2 linked regions of the Homo sapiens genome follow. The protein of the gene in region 2 purifies or fractionates together with the protein of the main gene of each other region. This does not show direct contact. Each region holds a gene or a part of one and is shown on either strand. Other genes may lie near its edges.

Region 1 (3,600 bases), on a different chromosome or scaffold from region 2:
ACTTGCTACTCATACCTCACAAACAGTGGTTTTGCATCCCAACACTAAGGCTGACTTTAAAGACAACCAATCAGCTACTGCATATCCATTATTATATTAATGACTAAAGTTTTATCAAAATAATCATATTTGTACTTACTTGAAAGATACCTTTACTTTGGGTTTAAAATAGGGTGCATTCTGGTCTGCCAAAAAGACGATTAAGTCATTTCCTAAAGAAAACAAATATATGATATTAGAAAAATGTTTGTTGATAAGATATCTAATCAGTGGTTACAAGAAGGTTTCTGGGCACTGTTCTCAACAAGAAAACTTTTATTCTACTCCAGTTCATCTGCCCTCTCAAGCATAGTCCCACTAGTCCAATGGAGATGCCTAACATTATATCACAAGTTCAATGTTCAAAGTAGCAGAGAAATAGAAAGGATGAACATGGGAAAAAGCAGCTGATCAAGAGAAACTGAAGCCAGTGGATTCTGCGAGGAGTCAGATTGGTTGACTTAAAAGAACCATATAAAGATGCCTTATAACTATACTACATGTCAAGACTTGTCTTCCCCGAATCTAGCAATGCTGTCCCTTGTAAGGCTGTTTGGTTCATTACACAGATGCATCACACCAAGGATGCAGGGACTCCCATTGTAGATATCTGACAAAGACATAATTAAGCATGTGAGCACAAAATGCTGAATCCTCCAAGACCCTCCTCCTATGGGGCCATCCTCCAGAGGGTGACACATTCTTGGAGCTCAATTAGCACTCATTGAGACAGACTTTTGGAATTGTTTAATCAAACACAGGCCATCTTTAAAGTCAAGGCTACTCTCTGTATCCAGTTTGGACACAGCAGCAACAGGTTTGGCAGTACACTGCAAAATGAGGAGTCAAAAAGATTGGGAAAATATTCAGGGTTTGTAAGAGGTTCCTGCATCCCCGCAAGGGCTCCAAGAAGTCTGGTTCAGGATCCTGTCAGGCAAGCTCTGAGTAGCTCTTCCTTCCTTCCTTCACAGCATTGATCTTTAAGCAGCACCTGCTTCTGTAGGTACTCAAGAACCCTAAGACCCCCTAATGCCCACTGTCAGCATCAAGATTTACAAAAAAGTTAGTTTAACGATTGTCAAAGCAAAGAATTTCCAAGAACAAGTTAGCAAAGAAAGTAGACATTTGGAACACTAAGGTGATGACCAAGATGAGGAAGGAGTACACGAAAGAACAGGCAGCTCAAGAGAGAAATTTCTGTAGTTTGAGACTGCTTTCCCAAGGAGGCATTGGGTTTATCAGTGGTCCCTGCAAAATGCTTGTGTGAGCTGTTTAGTGTTTAGGCCCTTGGAAGGGTACATTCGCTTCATAGAAAGTTGTGGCCTTGACAAAGAAAGGGGTGGGCGAATTAGGTAGGTGGGGAGGCAAGAAGAAGCCCCCTATGAGAAGAGATTGTCAGGTTGCACCTTTTCATGTTCATCAACGGGGAAGGAAGACTGAAGCAAAATAGAAAGGAATGAGTGGGCCTTGGGAGCGAACGTTGAGGCAAGCTACAAAGATTCCTAGGAATCAGGAAGCACTTTGGAAAACAGGTGATTCCATGGGGAGGAGGGGGTAAGGTGACTGGGTGAGGGCCGCAGACTTCTTAGGAACAAAACTGAGGTGCTGTCAGGGCTTTTGAGGGTAGGTCAAACTGTAGGGTAGCTGGGTCAGAACCTGGGGTTGGAAAGGGTGGTGCAAAAGGACAAGCTGTTAAGAATGCTAAAGGGAAGGCCACAGGGCTGGGAGAGAAGGACCAGGAAATGCAGAAGGACCGGCCATTGGGCAATGGGTTTGGGGAACACCGGGAGAGGCACACGGACAGCGAACAGAGGGAGGGCCCGGCAAGCACTGACTTTCCCGCAGCACGAAGAGATCCGTCTGCTTGTCGGAGTTGAGGTCCCCGAAAGCCGCAAGGGTGCCCCAGGCCTCGGCCCCAAAGAGCTCGGCCGTGACGTTGTGCAGCGCCCGCGCTGGGACCGGCCCGACTCCCAGTAGTGCAAGCCCTGCGAGGAGCGGCGAGAAGAGGGCCCAGGAGCTCGGGAGCCGGCCCGCCGCCGCCATGGCAGCCCCTCAGCCCCCGCCCGCCGGCCCAACGCCGCGCTTGACGACAGCCGCAAAGCACCGCGTTACCGGCCGAGAGAGTGGCGCGCAGCCCCGGGACGCGTAAGAGCCGCTGCCGGCTCCTTTTTCTCTCTCCCACTAGGGCTGCCCTTCCGACGCTAAAAAAGCAGTGGAGCTAGGGTGAAAGCCGCCCTCACGCTCACTTCCGGCAGGCGCGCCTCCCGACAGTGTCGTGCGGGGGGCGTGGCCCGGCATTGCTGACAGGCGGCCCCGGGGGCGGTGGCCAAGGCGGCGACCGGAGCGCGATGGCGGGGGCGGCGGGACTCACGGCAGAAGTGAGCTGGAAGGTCTTGGAGCGAAGAGCTCGGACCAAGCGCTCAGGTTTGGCTGGCTGGGGCGCCGCCCCCCACCCGAGTACCTTGGGTGGTGCTTCGCCTCAAGCGCCTTGGCGGGAGGCAGGTGGGGGCCCTGGGAATGAACCTGTGCCCCGAGTTCCTCCTTAGAAAGCAGGTGGCGGCCCTGGCCTTGTTTCTAATATCTTCCTCCACCTCTAAAAATTAGGTGGCAGAGCCAGCTCCACTCTGCGTGTGCCCCCGACTCTATTCCGCTTGTGAGCCCCACTCGGAAAGTAGGCAGCGGTCCGGACTTCCCTTAGAGTCTTCTAACTTAAAAATCGGGCGGCGGCACATTCCTGGGAAAGGGAATGTGTCTTCCCTGTGAATGTGTCTTTCCTGTGAATGTTCTCTGCAAAAGTCAGATAGCTTAATCAGACCAAGTCAGATGTAACTACGATCTGGCTGCAGAAAGCCGGCGTCTGGGCTCCTTGCTTTATGTCTTATATCCCTTTTACATTCCCCACAGGTTCTAAGCAGTAGACCTGTCATCTATCTAGCAGAAACTGAAGGAGACTGGGCCTCAGATATTGAAGAGTATAGTTAGGGCCCAGAAAGAAAAGGGCTTCTTAAGTGGCCCCAGGTTGTGTGGTTTCCAAACCCGAAAGCATAGAGGTCAGAAGGTGCCTTGCAGGCAGTTTTAACAGTTCCAAGTGTCCCGAACTGACTTGTTCAAATTGCAACGTCATGACTTGTGGCGTTATTAAAACTTCCTGTATTCCTGGTTGGCTGGATATAATCTTGAACAAAAGGCATGCACTTAAACAGGAAAGGTGAAAGGCGGAATGCAGGTTTTCAGCTAAGGAGCTTCCCTTTTAAAGAATTGATGAAGTGTCATTATTGGGGGTGGGTGTGAAAGGTGTTAGCTAGGAAAATTAACTTTGCACTTGCATTGATATTAAGAAATTATTTTCGGACGGGCGCGGTGGCTCACGCCTGTAATCCCAGCACTTTGGGAGGCCGAGGCGGGCGGATCACCTGAGGTCAGGAGTTCGAGACCAGCCTGGCCAACCTGGTAAAACCCCATCTCTACTAAAAATACAAAAATTACCTGGGCGTGGTGGCGGGCGCCTGTAACCCCAGCTACTCGGGAGTCTGAGGCAGAAGAATTGCTTGAACCTGGGAG
Region 2 (3,843 bases):
CTACGACCGAGTTTTTGGCCAGCTCCTCTGGAATTGAATAGCGGATCTGGACTGGGAGAGCCCCGGGGAACAAAGACAACAGGAAGGGCAACAGTACCTGCAGCCACCGCACCAGCCCGCACCTCCCTGAGCTCGCTTTCATCTTCTGGCTCCCTTTGCTCCTTTGCCCATAGGAGGAATAAGCCTTCCGGGGATGGCAGAATCCGGGCTAAGGTCACTTTTCCTGCTTTTGTTTTCTGTTTCCGAATCTATACTGGCCTTCTCTGTGTGGTTGGTTTGTGCAGGAAGTTCCCCTCTAAGAGGCTCCCAAACGCTTCTCTTCGTTCTTTTGACCAACAGCGACGCTCAGAGGTTTTCTCAGGAAACTGCACTAATGGCTTGTCAATATTTGCTAAGAACTTTTTTCTTTTCTTTTCTTTTTTAATTTATAAAGTCTTCATTTGTTTTAAAATATGTGAAATATTCATATAGTTCCAAATTCAAAAGATGCATTCAGCATAGGTTCTTCCTTTCATCTCTGCTTTAGATGAGGAGAAATGCTTTCACAGGGGAAATGAGTGTTAAAGTTTCTTAGGTATCCTTCCGGAGATATGTCTTGTATAGGGCAACGGATTTTTATAAATATTCTGTCTCCTTCTTTACACAAATGTAAGCATACAACATACCATATTCTGCACATTGCTTTTTTAGTTGTTATATCTTAAAGATCATATCAGTACATAGAGAGCTTTCCTATTTATTTCTTATAGTTATCTAGTGGCCCATAATATAGTTATCTAGTAGTCCGTAATATGAATATACAACAATTTGTTTAATCAAAATTGTTATTTGCTAAAAGAAACCCACTGCCCATTCTAACAAAAACACATTTTTTAAAAAATTTGATTTTAGGTTATAAATTATCTACTGCTTTCCTAGGCCTTTAAAACATGTGGCACTCTCATTCTGGAATATATTCCTAATGCCAACACCTGAATATGCTTGACACAGTTTCAGACCAATTGAGCATTTCCAAATTATATTTTATGGCTTAATTACTTTAAACAATCTCTCCTCAGATGTAAGTTGTCTCTCAACATTCACTTGTTATTTCTGCTTTCTGCTCCCCAAGCCAGGTAACTGCATCATATCATATTCCAGCTTACTCTATGTATTGCACCACAACTTTCTATGAATACAAAACCATGTAGAAACTAAAACTCTCCTTTGTAAGTCAAATTGAGGCATATTCCACAGTCTATCACTACAACTTCCAGTTATCAAATTACACTAATTTGTGTAAGCATATGCATTCATGAATTTTGAATTCTCACAGAACCTAAATGAAAGCACAAAGAACAAAAGTGTTGTATATCCCCTACACACAAAATATTTTCCCTCATATAAAATAATCCCAGAGCCACATGATGACAGAAATATCTGAAAGCAATTTGTAGCAATAGGGATGAGGCCACCTTACTAAGCAGCGTAAATCATATCAGTCCAGAACCCAAGTAACTCAACCTTTGAAAGAGGCTCACATGATGACAAGAGAAAAGACTCCAAAAACTTATATTTTCCTTGGAAATCAAGAAAGTCTCAATAGTGATGTCATGATAAGCAATTTAAAAATTATTAAAGTTACTCCTAGAATCTACTTATATATGACTGAAATTAGCTTGGAAATATTTCTCATAATCACAGGAGTGCACCAGAGGAATCACACATAGTCACTTCTGGTGCATCTCAGAACAGCAACAAGAAAATATTTGAAATATACCAGTTCATTGAGAAAATATCCTGTTAAAGTTATATCTAAAAGTTAAACTCACAAATTGCCAGTATTCTTAAATTGACGTTGCCTGTTATAATGGAAAATACCCTTTCAAGGAAGGAAAAGTAAACTTCAAGCAAAGCATGGTAGAGTGTGAAAATAGGAAATTAAAAAACCCTCAGTCCAGATCCAACAATAGCTTCATGAGAAAGAATATTGTAAATGTGAATTTACACAATTGCCTTCTATTTTACAGGTCTCTTGTATCTTTTCAGGAACACCTAAGAGAAAAGGAAATTTATTCTTTATTTTACTTTATTTTATTTTACTTTTTGGAGACAGAGGCTTGCTCTGTTGCCCAGGCTGGAGTACAGTGTCATGATCTCAGCTCATTGCAACCTCTGCCTCCCAGGTTCAAGCAATTCTCATGCCTCAGCCTCCAGGGTAGCTGGGACTACGGGCACACACCACCACGCCTAGCTAACTTTTTGTATTTTAGTAGAGACTGGGTTTCACCATGTTGCCCAGACTGGTCTCGAACTCCTGAGCTCAGGCAATCCGTCCTCCTCACACTCCCAAAGTGTTAGGATTACAGGTGTGAGCCACCACACCCAGCACAGAAAAGGAAATTTAAGGAAATGAGGTGGCTCAGAGTTGTAAAATTAGAAAATTCTGGCTGAAACTACAACTGAATGAAGACCAAAAAGGATAAGTAATAAACAACATTTTTGTGTGGTAAATACTGTTGATCATTATTGGAAGGTCATCCACCAGTTTTCTTTAAAGCAATAAAATATTAAAAGAGGCAACTTTATTTGATATATTACATATAAAATGAGAGACATTTACACAACTCTTTGTCTATATTTCAGTGTGGTATGATCTATTATAAGATTGACTCACCTGAAGATTAGGGTCTCCTTTTGTTTCAAGTAAATCCTGAGTTATCAGAAGAGGCTCGCTTTTCTCACAACTCTCCCGGCTGATGAGCGTGTCTGCATAGCTGGGTTGGGAGAAGATCAGGTGACTCTTCCGCGAGTCCGCGGTGAGGGAGACCTCGTGGGAATAGGTCTGCAGGAAAGCCCGAACCCCGTCCACGCCCACAAAGTGCGAGGCAGGCACACCTGCCAACCTGCTGCCTTCAGCGTGAAGCAGGCGTGACTTGTGCCAGCGTCTCAGCTTGAGTGCTAGCAGCACCGTGACAAAAGCCAGGAAGACGCAGGAGACAGCGGCCACTGCCACCACGAGATAGAGTGTGAGGCCCGAGTCGTCTGGGTCTGCTGAAGGCTTGAGGCTGCCCAAGTCAGCCAGGACATCTGGGATGCTGTCGGCCACAGCCACAGTGAGTGTGACGGTGGCCGAGAGAGGGGGCTGGCCATGGTCCTGGACGACCACTACAAGCCTCTGCTTGAGCGCGTCTCTGTCCAGCAGGGCCCGTGCGGTGCGCACCTCGCCTGTGTGCAGCCCCACTGCAAATAGTCCCGGCTCGCTGGACTTGAGTAGGCTGTAGGACAGCCAGGCATTCTGACCTGAGTCTCTGTCCACTGCCACCACTTTGGTCACCAGGTAGCCGGAATCTGCGGAGCGGGGTGCCAGCTCCACACCAGTGGAGCCATCAGTAGGGAAGGTGGGGTACAGGATCTCAGGGACATTGTCGTTCTGGTCCAGCACAAAGAGGCTCAGTGACACATTGCTGCTGAGTGGAGGGTCTCCACTGTCACTGGCTGTCATCAGCAGCTGCAGGTCTCTAAACTGCTCATAGTCGAAGGAGCAAAGAGCATATAGGATCCCTGTATTGGAGTTGATGGAGACATAGGAGGACAGAGGTGCACCCTGGAAGGTGTCTTCGGCCAGGGAGTAAGTGATTCGGGCATTGTCACCACTGTCAGGGTCTTGAGCAGTCATAGATAAGATGGAGGCTCCTCTGGGGTTGTTTTCAGGAATGTAAGCAGAGTAGGAAGCATGAGGGAAAGTGGGTGGGTTGTCATTGATGTCCATCACTTGCAGTGAAATATGAGTTTCTGTAGACAGTGGAGGAGTTCCCTGGTCAGTGGCAGTTACAGTGATGTTATATTCTGAGACTTCTTCCC

The links. Proteins that work in one complex are often made in the same cells at the same time.
Region 1: the proteins of PCDHGB1 (region 2) and ITFG1 purify together in Homo sapiens (co-immunoprecipitation; 3 studies listed by BioGRID and IntAct, with this or other methods). This does not show direct contact.

What each region holds. Positions count from the first base shown.
Region 1 is NC_000016.10:47,458,964-47,462,563, forward strand, and holds the start of ITFG1 (T-cell immunomodulatory protein isoform 1 precursor), read right to left. Parts: upstream 2,101-3,600; 5' UTR 2,083-2,100; coding exon 1,875-2,082; intron 213-1,874; coding exon 140-212; intron 1-139. Other genes in the region: PHKB (phosphorylase b kinase regulatory subunit beta), read left to right, coding at 2,388-2,463. UniProt on the Homo sapiens protein: Modulator of T-cell function. Has a protective effect in graft versus host disease model.
Region 2 is NC_000005.10:141,356,435-141,360,277, reverse strand, and holds part of PCDHGB1 (protocadherin gamma-B1 isoform 1 precursor), read right to left. Parts: coding exon of another isoform or gene 2,615-3,843; exon of another isoform or gene 2,545-2,614; intron 285-2,544; exon of another isoform or gene 143-284; coding exon of another isoform or gene 1-142. Other genes in the region: PCDHGB2 (protocadherin gamma-B2 isoform 1 precursor), read right to left, coding at 1-142; PCDHGA4 (protocadherin gamma-A4 isoform 1 precursor), read right to left, coding at 2,657-3,843. UniProt on the Homo sapiens protein: Potential calcium-dependent cell-adhesion protein. May be involved in the establishment and maintenance of specific neuronal connections in the brain.